Homo sapiens: one gene and its partner. The protein of the gene in region 2 interacts with the protein of the main gene of each other region in a biochemical or structural test. Each region holds a gene or a part of one and is shown on either strand. Other genes may lie near its edges.

Region 1 (7,881 bases), on a different chromosome or scaffold from region 2:
ACAAGCAAGAAAGAACTTATTCAACAACCAAGGAAATGCCAGCCCTCCTGCAGGACCCAGCAATGTACCTAAGTTTGGGTCCCCAAAGCCACCTGTGGCAGTCAAACCTTCTTCTGAGGAAAAGCCTGACAAGGAACCCAAGCCCCCGTTTCTAAAGCCCACTGGAGCAGGCCAAAGATTCGGAACACCAGCCAGCTTGACCACCAGAGACCCCGAGGCGAAAGTGGGATTTCTGAAACCTGTAGGCCCCAAGCCCATCAACTTGCCCAAAGAAGATTCCAAACCTACATTTCCCTGGCCTCCTGGAAACAAGCCATCTCTTCACAGTGTAAACCAAGACCATGACTTAAAGCCACTAGGCCCGAAATCTGGGCCTACTCCTCCAACCTCAGAAAATGAACAGAAGCAAGCGTTTCCCAAATTGACTGGGGTTAAAGGGAAATTTATGTCAGCATCACAAGATCTTGAACCCAAGCCCCTCTTCCCCAAACCCGCCTTTGGCCAGAAGCCGCCCCTAAGTACCGAGAACTCCCATGAAGACGAAAGCCCCATGAAGAATGTGTCTTCATCAAAAGGGTCCCCAGCTCCCCTGGGAGTCAGGTCCAAAAGCGGCCCTTTAAAACCAGCAAGGGAAGACTCAGAAAATAAAGACCATGCAGGGGAGATTTCAAGTTTGCCCTTTCCTGGAGTGGTTTTGAAACCTGCTGCGAGCAGGGGAGGCCCAGGTCTCTCCAAAAATGGTGAAGAAAAAAAGGAAGATAGGAAGATAGATGCTGCTAAGAACACCTTCCAGAGCAAAATAAATCAGGAAGAGTTGGCCTCAGGGACTCCTCCTGCCAGGTTCCCTAAGGCCCCTTCTAAGCTGACAGTGGGGGGGCCATGGGGCCAAAGTCAGGAAAAGGAAAAGGGAGACAAGAATTCAGCCACCCCGAAACAGAAGCCATTGCCTCCCTTGTTTACCTTGGGTCCACCTCCACCAAAACCCAACAGACCACCAAATGTTGACCTGACGAAATTCCACAAAACCTCTTCTGGAAACAGTGAGTTCTTTTCTCGTTTGCTATTCAGTATGGTTTACTCCAAGGCAGAGAATGTTTTAGCTTCTGGGGAAAGTTTTGTAACAAGGAATGATTCTCTATATCTGGTACTCATATGTGTATAATGAATTTTCTTTGTCTTGTTTTTTTCTTTCATGTGGGAGGTCTGGGAAAGTAGGAAGTCTTCATTCTGTGAGAAAATGCCTTGGTCAGCTGGGGTTTTGTTGGGGGAAGGGAGAGGGAATGCATCCACTTCATTGATACGTGGTTTTGCTTAATGATAACCATTGTATTTACTTCCTTTGTTGGGTTTCATTTCTGTTGAATGAGACTGAGGTATGTTACCCCTATCAACACAGAGGAGTTAGACAGAAAATGAGCTATCCTGTAGGTCAGCAGTTCCCAAAGGGAACAATTTTGACCCCCAGGGGACATTTGGCAATGTATGGAGGCATTTTTGATTGCCACAACTGGAGGGTGCTACTGGCCTCTAGTGAGTAGAAGCTAGGGATGCTATTGAACATCCTACAATGGCCAGGACAGTCCCACAACAAAGAATTATTCAGGCCATAATGTCAATAGTACAGAGATGACAAGCCCTCCTTTAAGTGACTGCAAATATCCACACAATTCATCATGTTTCCTAAGCCCAGTATTCAAATGAGAAAGGAGCAGTACTCATGAAATGGTACTTTGTGTTTCACATTTTAGCTATTTTCCATTTCTCAGTATAAAGTTTTCTGAACTTTTATGATTCATAAAGTAATATATAGTTAGGAAAATGAGCCAGACAAAGGAGTACTTTACTCTCCTTTCGGGTAAATAGTTTAAATTTCTACCAGAGATATCACTGCAATTCTCTTGGATGTGGTACTGAGTGACTGCATGTAAGAAGCTCACACATGCCTGAGATGATTAATATTTTAGGTAAATGATGTGCAACTGTTGTTTATTGTGAGGGGGAAACAAGATGCCTACAGGTGACCACACTACTTGTAGTCGCATCTTTCTCCTTACCGAAGTATGGTCTAGTTAAAGCAATTCTAAGCCTAAAGGTTGTTTTTCGTTTTTGCACTGTAGAAACATCTTGCGATATGTTATCTTCCTGAGTTCAGTATTCTCCTTGTTCGTAAACAGCTTAGTGATCAAGTCCTCTGCTAATTCAAACACACAGAAAGCAAGTTTGGAATGATCCCATGACCATCTGTCTTCCAGAAAGGTTCATCCTTGTTTCACATTGCATCTCCTCCTCATCTGTCATCTTGTTTCATTACCAGGTCATAATTCAGAACTATTATTTTTGTGAGACTTTCTAAAAGGTCCCTTATTTCTCTTATTTCTTCACCTCGGATAAAAAATTTAGTATTATGACCTCCATTTTATGGCTGTGACTTCACACCAGGGAAGGAGTTCTGATGTTAGGCAGAAATCCCTGGGAACTTTCTTCCATCTTTGTTTCACTCCCGCTCCAGTGTGGGTGGTGGCAGAGCATGGTGGTAACACATGTTGCCCGGTGTCACGCTTTTCAGTGAGTTGCCACAAATGCTAACCAAGTCCTCTTTCTGACTCTGAAGGCCTGACAAGGTCTGATTTTTAGTGAAGTAAAGCTACAAGGGACCCAGGCAGAACTGCAGAGCAGACGGAGTTTATCCTTGTTCTCCTTCTCCTCTCCTTTGCAACCCTCCCCTGCTCCTGAATGCTTCCTCACTGTCAGTAGCCCATGCCACAGTTCACATTTTAAATCCTGTCATCAGTGTAACCCCCTCAACATCTGATGCCTTGAGATGTATTATGCTCCAAAATGTATCCTGTTCTCTATTCATTCACCTCTTCCACAAATCAAAACTCAATCCCTCTTAATCTAGATTGACCTCATTTGATATCTGGATTAAGCAATCTGATTCATAACTTTAAACTCTGAATAATACCCCTTTAAAGCATTCACCTTTTTAAAAAGCATTTGAATTCTTTTATCTTTTAAGTAGAAATTACATTCTGACTGAAAAAGCAGTAAGTGTAAAATGGTGTACAGTGAAGCTACCTTTAACCCTTGTCTGCCACTTTCTGGGTCTTTCCAGCCCCTACCCCATAGAAACCACTCTTCTTAATTTCTTATATGTCCATCTGAAGTTTCTTTATGTTCACAGAAGCAAATATGAACATAAATACTACCCCCCACCCCGGCTTTTTACTCATGAAGTAGAATATTATGTGCAATGCTCTGATCCTTGTATTTTTAAAATAAATAAATCCTGTATATCTTTCCACATTTTAATAAAGAGTAACTGATTATTCTCTAGAGTTGCATAATACTTCAGTAAATGGGTGACAAGCTTAATCAATTTAACAATTTGTGTTGTTTCCAAAAGCGTTCTTTTGCAACAATACTGCAGAAAATAAACTCGTGTATGTGTCATAAAGTAAGCATTTATTTTCTGAACACAAAGTTTTTTAAGTCAGGTCTGCTGACTCTTGATCCTGCCACTGCTATTTTTCTTAAACAATGCTAGAAATACTAAGTAATTTACCATTTCATTTAGGAAGGTTAAAATATATCAGAATTAGAAAGTATATGTTCATTTTATATAACTGGATAAGCAATATAAAGAAAAGAATTAAATTTCTGTTGTAGCAAAATTTTTTAAAATTCTGAAATTCTATTTTTTATAATTCTGGAGTATGTAAGTAGAAAATAAATAATTATTAAATAATTAAATAATAATATACATATACGTATACATAAACATGTGGTATATTGTACGTACAGTCTTTAGATGGGAAAATTCTTTATTAAGTGTAATTATCGCCCCCATTTCACAAATGAGTGTTGAGATGTGACATAACCAAATCATATATCTGAGGCTAAAATCCAAGTCTTCAGATTGCAAGTTTAATACTTTCTCCATGTACCATCGTGCCCCTGTATGTATGTTTGCATGTTTATGTTTAAAGCATAAGTGTATTATTTATTTATATAGAATATATATGCAGATATTCCTTGACTTGTGATCGGGTTACATCCTTATAAACATTCTTAAGTTGGAAATATTATAAACTGAAAACACGTTTAATATACCTAACTACCAAATGTCATAGCTTAGCCTAGCCCACCTTAAACATGCTCTGAACACTTACATTAGCCTACAATTGGGCAAAATCATCTCACACAAAGCCTATTTTATAATAAAGTGTTGACTATCTCATGTAATTTATTGAATACTGTACCATGGTTTCTACTGAATGCATATTGCTTTTGTACCATCATAAAGTCAAGTAATCATTAATTTGAACTGTCATAAATAGGGCACCATCTGTGTATGTATACATATTATTACTAATATGTACATGGGATTTTAACTTTTTTCAAAGGACTTTCAAAATGTTTATGTCTTTTATTACTTATAATGTCCCATGAATTAGATACAGCAGTTTAATGAACCCATTTTAAACCAATGTGCAGAGTTGCCAGGTTATCTATTAGTAATGTTATTAATGGTACAGAGCCTAGCATGAGAGTTGTTTGCCATATAATGTAGACTTCAAAGTCAGTGGACCTGGGGTTTAAGCATGACTAATGTACTAGCTATGTGACCTTCGCTTTACCTCTTTCCGTGTATGTCTTTCTTCATTTGAAAAAACGAGTATAATACCACCTACTTCGCCAGCACATTATAATCACTACATGAGATTCGTTGTAAGTGCTTAATACAGAATTTGACATATAATAGTATCAAAATAAGTGAGCATTGTCTATAATTTTATTACTTTTATTAGCATTAAAATTTTATCACCAGCCCCATGATATTCTGATCATCTTATAGTATAAATCATTTTATATTATACTATATTATTCTAGGAATCATGAAACTGCATTTTACTTACTTCTGTTTGTAATATAGAAATGTATTTGTGATTTATGATGCCAGAGTCAAACAATGATTGTTGGAAGAGAGGTTTCCCACCAGAAGTCCATGAAATTTCTGCGCTCAGATGCCTCCTTCCCTACAGCAAAGGCTGGTAGAGAGCAGTAGGCGGCACCCAAGTGGCACTAGGTCACAAGTGCCCCCAGATTTTGCCATCTCCTACTGGCTGAAGCCAAGCGAAGGCATCTGACTCAGCCAAGCAGAGGTGGAGAGGCTGCAAAGCCAGTATAGATGGCTGTTATCCCAAGACACTGGTATTATCAAAGGCAGTTTTCGAAGGTCATTGTTTCCAGAGTGCATTTGCTTTCCCCATTACCTGTCAACCTGGAAGAAATAAATAAATGTGGCCAATGGATTTGCTCTGGATTATGATTGGCCACAGCTGCTTAGATTGGCAACTTCCAGGGAAAATGCTTCTTAGTGTGCTGCTACAGACCCTAAAATTTTTTGAGATTGGAGTTTTTACATGAACTCCAACAAAAAATGCCCTAAACACACCTGACTAGGCATGAATTTTCATATAACAGGGCTTCCAGATAAATTATTTGCTGCATGGTATAATTAGAAAATTATTTATTTGCTTGTAATAAAATGGGAAAGAAGAGAGATTCTATGCTTTAGAAAAAATGAGATTCTATTACTAAATATTTATTCACTAAGATTTAATAGTTATTGACGGGAGCAAAATGAAATGCCTTGCTCAGTGAATGCAGAGACTCCAAAAAGACTATTTTTTCTTGTTAGAAGTAATTATACTAGTGTTCAAATTAACAAACATTCATCTAATAACTCTATATGCCTTTTAAACTAATACTGTTTTCATAGCCTTCTACCTCATTTCTTCCTTTCCAGGTTCTCATCCAATTCTTTAAACCTCTTCCCCAGATATACCCTCCATCTCATCATCTTTGCCCAATGTATTAACTGTTAAAAATATTCATCATTTATTGAGGACTTGCTATATACCACATACACATTATGCCGTTTATTCCTCTCAAGCCATGAATAGGAATTCTATGAGTAAACTAAAGCTCAGAGAGGTTAGGTAACTTGCCCAAAGGCATAACATGACTAAACAAGGCTGGGGTCAATCTCATGTCTTTCTGATTCCGCAGACTGTGTTCCCACCCGCATTCCACTTCCTCGTGCTGGGCTGCCTCTCTTCAAACACAGAATATCACAAGACAATGAATCAAGCATAAATGAAACTCCCAAAATCCTCATTCCTCTCCCTTTCTGTGGCCTTTGGTTGAAACATGCCTTTTGTTTGTTGTCTGTTTTGTAAATACCACTATAAGCTCCATGAAGACAGAAGCCAGTCTGCTTGCCATTCTCTCATTTGGAGTACAAAAGTAATATAAATTTTTGTTAGCTTCTCAAGTTTATTCTTTCACAGAATTCTATTTAACCAGACCGGGTGCGGTGGCTCATGCCTGTAATCCCAGCACTTTGGGAGGCCGAGGCGGGCTGAACACCTGAGATCAGGAGTTCAAGACCAGCCTGGCCAACATGGCGAAACCCCAAAAATACAAAAATTAGCCAGGCATAGTGGTGCGCACCTCCCAGCTACTCAGGAGGCTGGGGCAGGAGAATCATTTGAACCCAGGAGGTGGAGGTTGCAGTGAGCCGAGATTGCACCACTGCACTCCAGCCTGGGTGACAAAGCGAACCCTATCTCAAAAAAAAAAAAAAAAAAAGAAAGAATTATATTTAACTAGAATTTATTTACTCCCAGATTTTGTTCAGTATTAGATTTTAATACTCTATAGCTTAGCAATTGTTTTAACACAATAGATAACCCCTGCCAGTAGACTTGTACTCAACTGAATGGAGCTTGGACACAAAATAAATGTTATAAGAGAGGGTCTATCTTGCAGATCTATTGAGCTCCCTTCCTTGTAAACTGTAAGCTTGACTCTAACATGTTGCTTTCTGATCATGAAGCTAAATTTTTTTTTCCTAAGAACAATTTAAGGTTACAAAAGACTAAACGTTTTTTTTAAAAAAACCCAAAATATCAAAATATTCTCTGAACTAACCTTTCCTTTGCTTCCTTTTGGGTCCTGAGCCAGTTCTGAAAGGGCTTCTTCCCATGTGTCAACACAATGCCTCACCAAAGTTTGGGTTCATAAGAATCCCTGGCCTGACTATTGGTTTGCATGTATGATTTAGTAAAAACCTGCTGGGAAATATTCAGTTTGACCCTTTTTTCTAGTCTTGTTCTTAATACTGCTGAGAGACCAAGACTGATTTTTTCCATATGTTAGCTATAGGAATGATCAGTTAAGCACCTTGACAGCAACAGGTGTAAGGCGAGGGCCCCAGAGGGCATTAACAAAAGACTGATGGCCCCCTCCTCATCTGTGTATGTATCATTTAACTAATCCAGCCTACAACAACTTGAAACCAAAAGGTGCCTGGGCTATTTTCACCAGCAAGTAACTTGTTTCCAGGAGTGGGTAAGATTTTCCTTCACAGGCCCCAAAGCTATCACCTTTCTTTTTCCCCCCATTCTCCTTTTATGTGTACTCTCTTAACATGACCTTATTAGATATTTACATATTGAAAACTGTTTTATATCAGCATGTGGCAGTATTTTCCAAATTGTTGCTCCTAGCCACCACAGGGAAAAAGGATTCTATGTTCACATTTTAGAAACGTAGCGGTAAGTGCTATTCTTTAAAGCAAGATTTCTCCAAGTATTAATATGTCACTGTGCACTGGGAACGTAAGAACATGATACAAAAAGAAGAGATCCCGGGATGCTTTGACTGAAACGGCTCACAGACTGGACTATTACAGGACACTGAATCACTGGAGGCAAAGCTCTCTCATACACAGACTGGAATTTGGAGTTGCTCAACGGCGTGGTTCAGCTTCGGGTAACAGCCAGGCCCTCAGCACACCCTGCACGCTCGTTC
Region 2 (8,383 bases):
TTTTTTGTAGAGACAGGGGTCTCACTATGTTGCCGAGGCTGGTCTCCAACTCCCTGCCTCAAGTGATCCCCCTGCCTCAAGTGATCCCCCTGCCTCGGCCTCCCAAAGTGCTGGGAATGAAACATTACTATTTAGATGGAGGAGGGCCAACAGTGATGACTTCGTAGAGTGGCTCAGTGATCCCTAGGCTGTAACTATCTATCTTAGGTATTTTTCAGTTCTACAAGAGCTTTGTACCTGATTCTAATGCACAGCTCCTGGTAAGCTGGGGGACCCTGGGTATAGTGCTGGGTCTGTTCCTTATCTTGAATTTGCTCCCTTTGAAGATTCTTTTGAGTTTTTATATAGTCCCTCATACTGTTCCAAGCCTGTACCTCACTGAGAACCTGCTTATGGAATTGTTTCCTGATGTGATATGAGAAGCTGCTTATTTTGTTGTATGTATTAAGGCAGAGAATCTAGGAGTGTGAGCTGGAAGGGGAGACCATTGGAAGTGTATTTGTGTGAGTGTGTGTATAACAGGACCCTCCTAAGTTGAAGAGTTAGCTAATTGGTAAGAACAAGGCTTCTGGCAAGCCGTGGAAACTTCATTTTTAGGCCACTGAAGTAACGTGCCCAAGTTAGCATCTTATGTCCATCTCCTCTGCCTTCAAGGTGGCATGATGCTTGGTTTCTGGAGCCTTGCAAAACATACAGTGAGCCTGGTTCTTGGCACCGACAGGATGCATCATCTCTCCTTCCACATCTCTTAATGAAGTGTGCAGCTCTTGGCCTCATTAGGCCCCAGCATTGTCAATAAAAGAGTCAATAAACCCGGTTGATGGGGTTGGGACCGAGAGGCTGAGAGGCAGTGGCTGCACATCCATAGGGCAGACGTCAGCTCCGCCACATGTCATGACCCAGCATTCAGGGATCAATAACCAGCTCAGAATAAAGCCTCAGAGCCTGCCCTCTGCAGTTTCCTCTCCAGACCCATTTCAGCCAGGGCAGAGCGGTGCCAGCCAGCTCCTGCTTTGCTTGCAGTTGTGTTCCCACTGCATGCCATTCTGGGTGCCAGATGCTTTTGTTTCTTCCTGATTGGTCCCTCTGGACATCCCATAGATGCCTATTTAGCGAGTGCCCACCTGGCATGAGAACATGTAGACAGCATTCCCAAGAAGCTCAGAGGCCAATATGGGCCCTATTTTCTGTGTCTTCTGTCTGCTGACAGTGCGTGAAGGGTCCCGGTGGACAAGGCGGTGTGTTTTCTGCATGTTGTGCTGCTGGACTCCATTCCTGGCTGTTCTACATCTCTTTAGATCCCCTTATCTTATCTAATTACAAGGAATTCCAGATTAATTTCATGGCCTCTGCTCCAAAGGACCTCTTATCTGTGAGGGCCTTGTATTTTAACCTTGTCATTCTTTTGTTGTTTGTCTTTAAGGGGCAGGCAGCTAAGAAGAGGATGCTAAGATCTTGCTGGAATTGGGTCTGGGGGGGACGGGAAGAAAAGGGAGGCAGACAGACCTGAGATTTGTGTATTCTGTTCTGTCCTCCTGCCTGTGTGCAGAGACAGCTGGCTGCTTTCTTCCATGACAGCCACATAGTACCCAGCCACACAGAACAGGACCCAGGCAGGGACTCAGCTACTGCCAACCTCTCCAGATTGCTTTGATATTTCTGACAGAACAGTAAAGGACTCGTGACTATCACGTTTTGCCTTGCCTCTCTTCACCTCCTCTAAGACTCCTCCATGTGGTTTCCATGGCTACCCCCAATCAGATTTGGCTTCCTGCGAAATTGGATTTCAAAAAAGGACAAGGCTTCAAAGGAATTTGTCCATTTAACAGAATGTCATTAGGAGTGGGGCTGACTGCTGAAACAGGGTCCTCAGATGATTAAGGAAGGGCTGCGTTCATGTGTGGAGGCAGATTTCTGTCTGCAATGAGGAACCTTGATGCAACATGACAATACCGTATTGGAATCTGCCAGTCACTCACTACATACTACCCGACTGTGCACCTCCCTCTACCCCTGTCTCTCTAAAACCCAGAGATTCTTGTAAGGAAGGATGCATATAGAATACGTACACTGTGAGTTTTTGGTGTAAGTAAGCTATGACAGGCAGTGAAGCCTGCAAAGAAGTGCAATTACCTGGGTTTACTGCTCTTTATCAAACAATTCATTAGCTGGTAGCTTATATTAGTATGTGACACCATATCCTTGAAGAAGAGGGGGAGGTTATCAAATTTTCTTCTGTTGCCAAGAAGGAAAGCAAGGCAAAGTTTAGGTTGACATATGGGGAGACTTTGCTGCCCTTGCTGTATTTTTTGTGTAACAGTTTAGATTTACCAAAAAAAAATTGAGATGATAGCACAGACAGTTCCCATGTATCTTTCCTTGCTTTTTAGTATGCCTCATAAGTACTTCAAAATGATTCTAGAGCAGCTACAATTTTATAGGTGAAGTGGTGAAGTTGGTAAAAATGCCATGGGGGTACCTGGTACTTGATCCCAAGCCTGAAAGGGGTAGTCTGCCCATTGCTATACTTTCTTTCTTTCTTTCTTTCTTTTTTTTGAGATGGAGTCTTGCCCTGTCACCCAGGCTAGAGTGCAATGGCCTGATCTCGGCTCACTGCAACCTCCGCCCCCCGGGTTCATGTGATTCTCCTGCCTCAGCCACCCGAGTAGCTGGGATTACAGGCGTGCACCACCATGCCCAGCTAATTTTTGTATTATTAGTAGAGACGGGGTTTCACTATATTGGTCAGGCTGACCTCAAACTCCTGACCTCGTGATCCGCCTGCCTTGGCCTCCCAAAGTGCTGGGATTATAGGCGTGAGCCACTGTGCCCAGCCACCCATTACTATACTTTCTCAGGGCAGGAAGGAGGATGAGCAGGAGCCAGATACCCCAGAGAGGCTCATGCCAGCCTCTGTCCCCTCACCCCAATTTACTGCAGCTTGTAGGTGGGTCATGTGACACTGAAACCAATGCACCACTGCTTTTCAGATGGCAGGATGCACTGTACTCCTTAAAGGATCACACCCTCATCTTTGAGGCTGTATCTCTGGATGGGAAACAGTACAAGGAGGCAGGCACTTTTATCACACTCATCCTTCTCGATGGTTTCTTCTTACTGCTCTTGCCCCGTCTGCTAGATTGAGTCCATCATTATTCCCCTTATGGCTGTTGTAAAAACCATTTTACCCACTTCCCCCTGTGTCTTTTCCCACCACTCCTAATCTTTTCTACATATTCTGTAGGTTGAGTCTGAGAATAGAAATGCCATTTTTTACAAAGAAGGAAAAAGGCAGAGGTGGAGATGTGTGAGGCCACATACCACCCCGGAGCTCTGGTTAGGTCATTCCCAATCTCAAAAATTGTCAATGGCTCCCCAGTGCCCTCTCAATTAAGTTCAACATTCCTATTCTGACTTTCAAGTCCCTTCACAGTAGAGCTGCAGTTTATCTTGACAACCATAGTCTTTCTACAACATCCAGTAAAAGAGGGCTACTAACTATTCCTCAAGCTGGTGAGGGCTCTTCCATCTTTCTTTACTCTGGTCCTTCCACCTGGAAAGTCCTCTGCCCCTTCAAAGTCTGGTGTGTTTTTCAGAGCCCATCTCAAACACCACATGCACCTTTAAACACTCACATGCACACTGGCACTTCTTTTTATTTTCTTTCTTTTTTAAGAGACAGGGTCTTGCTCTGTTGCCCAGGCTGGGGTACACTGGGGTGATCATAGTTGGCTGTAACCTCAGATTCCTGGGCTCAAGTGATCCTCCTGCTTCAGCCTCCCAAAGTGCTGTGATTACAGGTGTGAGCCACAATGCCTGGCCTCTTCCCTCCTTTTCTGGTATTCAGCTCCCTTCTTTTATCAACCATAGCACTTTATACTTTTTTCATGGCAGTTGACCTATTGTACTTAAAAAACCTCTTTATTTTGAGAATTATAGATTCACAGAGAGTTTCAGAAATAATAGAGGAACTCTGTCTACCTTTACCCAGTTTCCCCCAAGGGTAACATCTGGCACTATTACAGTACCATGTCACAACCAGGACACTGACACCAACTGTCCCTTGAATGAGACCGTGTGATTTTGTCCTTCACTTTCCTCCCTTCCGCAGCTCCTGGAGGGAAAGGGCTCTGTTCTCCTCTCCCTCAGCTTTCTCCCTGTGTTACCCCTTCCTTTCCTCAGGGCCTTTCCATCCTGAGGGAGAACAGCACAGTTTGGTTTCCTGTGTCCCTTGCTGCCACGCTGCCGCGATTCTCCCAAATGTTGGTGTCCTTATATTGCTTATTGGGAATTAATCATTTCCTTTCAACATTGTGGCTTCCCAAAGAGCGAAGTTTTGCCCTCTTTTCTGGGGATGGAGATGTGAACTGGACCGGCAATTGAGGGGTGCTATGCTTGACGGGGATCTCTTCCTTGGATTCTGCCTCCCTGCACCCTACTTCAGGCACCCCGTGGTCTTTCAAATCTGCCACCGTGAGGTCAACTGTTCGGTGCTTAGGATGGAGTGTCCAAAGCCGTGGGTCCTTTGAGCCTTGTGAAGTCTTTTGTTTTGGTGGGTGCTGGAGGGGCGCACCTTTGGCCTCGCACGGTGCGGTGCTTCCGGCACCCCCAATCCTTCTACCGTGGGGCTCCGGCGTGAGCGCCACGTGCACCCACGCCCCGCGCCCCGTTCCGGTCCCCGCCTGCCGCCCGCGCCACTTCCTGACGCGCCCGGGGACCCACGGCCCCGCCCCGCGGCCGGGCTGGGCGGGCGGCGACCGCGGCTGAGGTACAGGTGCCTCGCGGTGCAGCCGGGTCGCCTTCCAGCCCGTCCGCCTCCCGACCAGGGCCCGCGCCCCGTCCCGCCTCTCTCCCGCCCAGCCAAATGCAGGCCGCCGCCCTCCCTGAGGAGATCCGTTGGCTCCTGGAAGGTAACGCCCTGGCGCAGGCCCCCTCCAGTGCTGAGCCGAAGGCCGAAAGGGGACACCAGGCCTCCCACGGCCAGGCTTTCTTTACGGCTTCGTCACTCACCTCCTTCTAGAACCTTAAGGCTTCTAGAGCCCTCAACTCCCTAGAGCCAGCTTTCCATCCTCTCACCTCAGGGCCCCTTTCACTCCCTGGAGTCCCACATCTTCTTTTGCCTTGAGGCACCTCCACGCCTCCACTTCACCTCCCCGGCTTCTAAAGTCCTCAGGCCAGGTTCTTGGTCCCCCATGCCACCTTGCCTGGTCTCCGACCTGTCCCTTTCTCCAAAGGACTGCCCTACATCTGTAGGGTTTCCCGTCCCCCTCCTTCCCCAGCCACGACTTCCTCACCTCTCACAGAAGACCCCAAACCTTCCTGCTTAGAGGTCCCCGAGGCTCTCCAGGGGGCTGCGAGGGGCTCATGGGATCCCCATGGGCCAAGGCCAGGTGGTTGACGTGAGTTTTTGTCAGTGCGAAAACCCCAGCCCTCCCTTTATCACCCTGCAGACGTCTAGGGGTCTCACCCACCCCAAGGCAGGCTCATTCTCAGTATGGGATTTCCTCCTTTTCTAGAAGTGCCCCCATTGTGGTGTGTTCACCTTCCAACTCCCATTGTGGTGTGTTCACCTTCCAACTACAGTGTCTAAGCGGTGGTTTAAAGAGTTCCGGCCATCCCCGTCAACACTCAACACACACTGCCAACACTCCAAAGAGATGTCACAAAGAGACGTTGCTAACGGGCAGTTTCATCTGCTGGGTTTCGTGGTGGAAGTCACTTTTACTTGCTTTCCTGTAACTAACCTTCCAGGGAGGACAGAGGCCTGGAATCTGCAGTCGCATAAGGCTCCCAGGAGGAAACTATTCAGAATTAAGCCTTTTGGCATCTAAGTTGACATAGTTGACACATATTTAACAGACGGCCTGCTTTGGGCAGGTCATATTTTTGGCAAGCAGTATTTTTTTTCAGTTTCTCTCAATTTAATTGGTTTTATATCTCCATTACCTTGTTATCTCGGTATAAATGCCTCCTAATCAAATATTTGGCAAGTCCTTTTGGTCTCTGTCTGTAGCACTATTTCCATTCTGGATTGCTTCTATGTAAAAGCTGTCAGCTAGATATTTCTTTTGAGGTGAGGTTTCCAAAATCCGTTTTACTTACGATCAGAATAAATCTAAATTTTGGGGGTAGAAAACTATTTGCAGGGTAAAAGAGAATTATCTGGGTGTCTAAGAAGAAACAATCCAGCCTTTCCCTCTGTTGTTGGTTTAATATTAGGCTTGTGAAGGAAGGCTGTAATTGTCTTTGGTTTCTAGGAAAGAAGGGACTGTGGCAAAAAGTTTAACTCTGCCCTTGCATTGAAATATATAAACTGATTCTTTTTATTGGTATCTGTCATTTGATGAGAGGAAACCTATTTTATAAGCTTATTAAACTATACTTCAGTTTTGTGTCTAGGCTTGGTAGAAAATTCCTTTTTATTTTCAGAGGCTTGCAATGAAATCCATTCCTTCAGCATTTTTGATGTGCAGTTCTTCATTGTTCAAAACTGACACTTTGGTAAACAACTCATTTCTGCACCTGCCACCTTCCTTTAGCTTAGATTATTTTCTTGTTAGCTGACTGTTTTTAATTGAAGTCTTCAGATCTCCTTCTAAAGCAGAACCTTTGTTTGCTGACAAGTAGAGCGGGGTATGAATGGAGATTAATTGCATGTCGCATACTTCTGTATCAAGCTTGCTGTATCTTAACAATCTCTGTTGGTGCTCAGGTCTTTAAAATATATGGAGGAGTCTGAAACCAAATTATAAGGAGCTTCGTTGGTTAATGTATTTCTTTAAGGCTTTTTTTTTTAAGTTTGCAATTAGAACTTGAATCTGAAGTAGAGAAAAAAATGTAAAGTGTGATTCATCCAGTAATTCTATTGAAAAATGTTTGAAGATATGTTTTTTAAAGGTTCCTGTAATAATAATAGCAATATATTGGTTACAAGTTTTATTTCTTTTGGAACACAGTCGCTGGTGTAGACCAGGAGGATTATTCATTGTGTTACAAATAATCTGTCCATATTAGAAACCCAAAATGGCCATCAATTTGTTGTTTGTTGCTATTTGTCTCCCCCACCACACACTTTTTAAGGTTAACTGTTGACAATTAGAAAAAATGGAGGTCCTGATCTCTATATAGTCACTCTGTGGGAGGGAGTCACAGGATGTGAGGGCTGCAACTCTAGTGCTGCCACATGGCTGTGGGGGTGGGGTTTCCACAATGAATTACTACTTTCATAAACCAAGGCATAAGCATTTGCACAGTGATTTAACACTGGACATCACAGCCATAACTTAAGCATTTATTTATTTATAACTACACAAGCATAAATGACAGGGGCATTTTTTGACATAATGTGTGTGCTTTTAAGAATAAAATATGTAAAGCATTGTGAAAGGTAGATAACAAAATTTTGCATAATGAAGAGAACAGAAATTCCCAAGGCCTAAAATTAATTTTGTTTAAATATAAAATTTGAGACACTTGGAAATGTTTCACTCGACCTAGAAACCTCACTTCTAAAAATCTGTCACTGAAGTGAAAGGTCATGAAGTAGTATATGCACGAAGATCTATGCTAAATGTTAATAAGTTGGGAGACTCAGGGTGATGGTTGAATGAATTATGGGACATTTGTCTCATGGAATACTTCACAGCCACTAAAAGAGTATTCTGTGGATCTATATATAGGCTTGGAAAGTGTCCATGGCATATTTTTAAGACTAAAAGGCAAAATGCATGATAGTACATGTAATATCCCATTTTTGCTTGAAAACCAAAAGACAAAACAAGAAAAGCCACATATGTTATAAATATTTGTGTAAGCCTAGGAATAAGTAAAAAAGAATATATACCAGACTGTTAACATTGGCTTCCTTGAGAGAAGACTGAGAGTTTGGAGGAGGGGAGGTTATTAATTTTTATTTCATACATCTTTGTGTTGTTTGAATTGTGACAATGACCATGCATTACTTCTGTAAACAGGAAAAAATAAACAGTAAGGGTATTTAAAAGAAAAAGGAACAAAAGACAAATAGAAACTCAGAGAGGTCAGAGTGCTAACGGACCATTTACTATGCTTGTGATCATGTTTTTCTCTTTTTAGCCCTGAGGGGTATGGAAGGTGGAGAAATTAAAAAAAAAAAACACGCTATCTTGGATTTTTGGCAAATATCAAAACAGTGTGAGGTTTCTAGAGTAACTCAGGAAATAGCTTCTTTAGATAGACTCTGTCAAGCTCTCATATAGAAATAGTAACTAGTCCCCTATCAACAAATAAATACCTCATAGATAAGTAAAATGGAGGGTGCTTTCTGCTTTATTGAAAGAGGAGGAAATATTCAGGTCTGTTTTCAAATAATGGGGCTTCAGATGTAGAAGTTATCTTTTTGTTT

The links. Proteins that work in one complex are often made in the same cells at the same time.
Region 1: the proteins of SKAP1 (region 2) and FYB1 form a complex in vitro, tested with the Homo sapiens proteins (2 studies listed by BioGRID and IntAct, with this or other methods).

What each region holds. Positions count from the first base shown.
Region 1 is NC_000005.10:39,194,985-39,202,865, reverse strand, and holds part of FYB1 (FYN-binding protein 1), read left to right. Parts: coding exon 1-1,040; intron 1,041-7,881. UniProt on the Homo sapiens protein: Acts as an adapter protein of the FYN and LCP2 signaling cascades in T-cells. May play a role in linking T-cell signaling to remodeling of the actin cytoskeleton. Modulates the expression of IL2. Involved in platelet activation.
Region 2 is NC_000017.11:48,426,602-48,434,984, reverse strand, and holds the start of SKAP1 (src kinase-associated phosphoprotein 1), read left to right. Parts: upstream 1-4,770; 5' UTR 4,771-4,864; coding exon 4,865-4,910; intron 4,911-5,052; exon of another isoform or gene 5,053-5,375; coding exon of another isoform or gene 5,376-5,399; intron 5,400-8,383. UniProt on the Homo sapiens protein: Positively regulates T-cell receptor signaling by enhancing the MAP kinase pathway. Required for optimal conjugation between T-cells and antigen-presenting cells by promoting the clustering of integrin ITGAL on the surface of T-cells.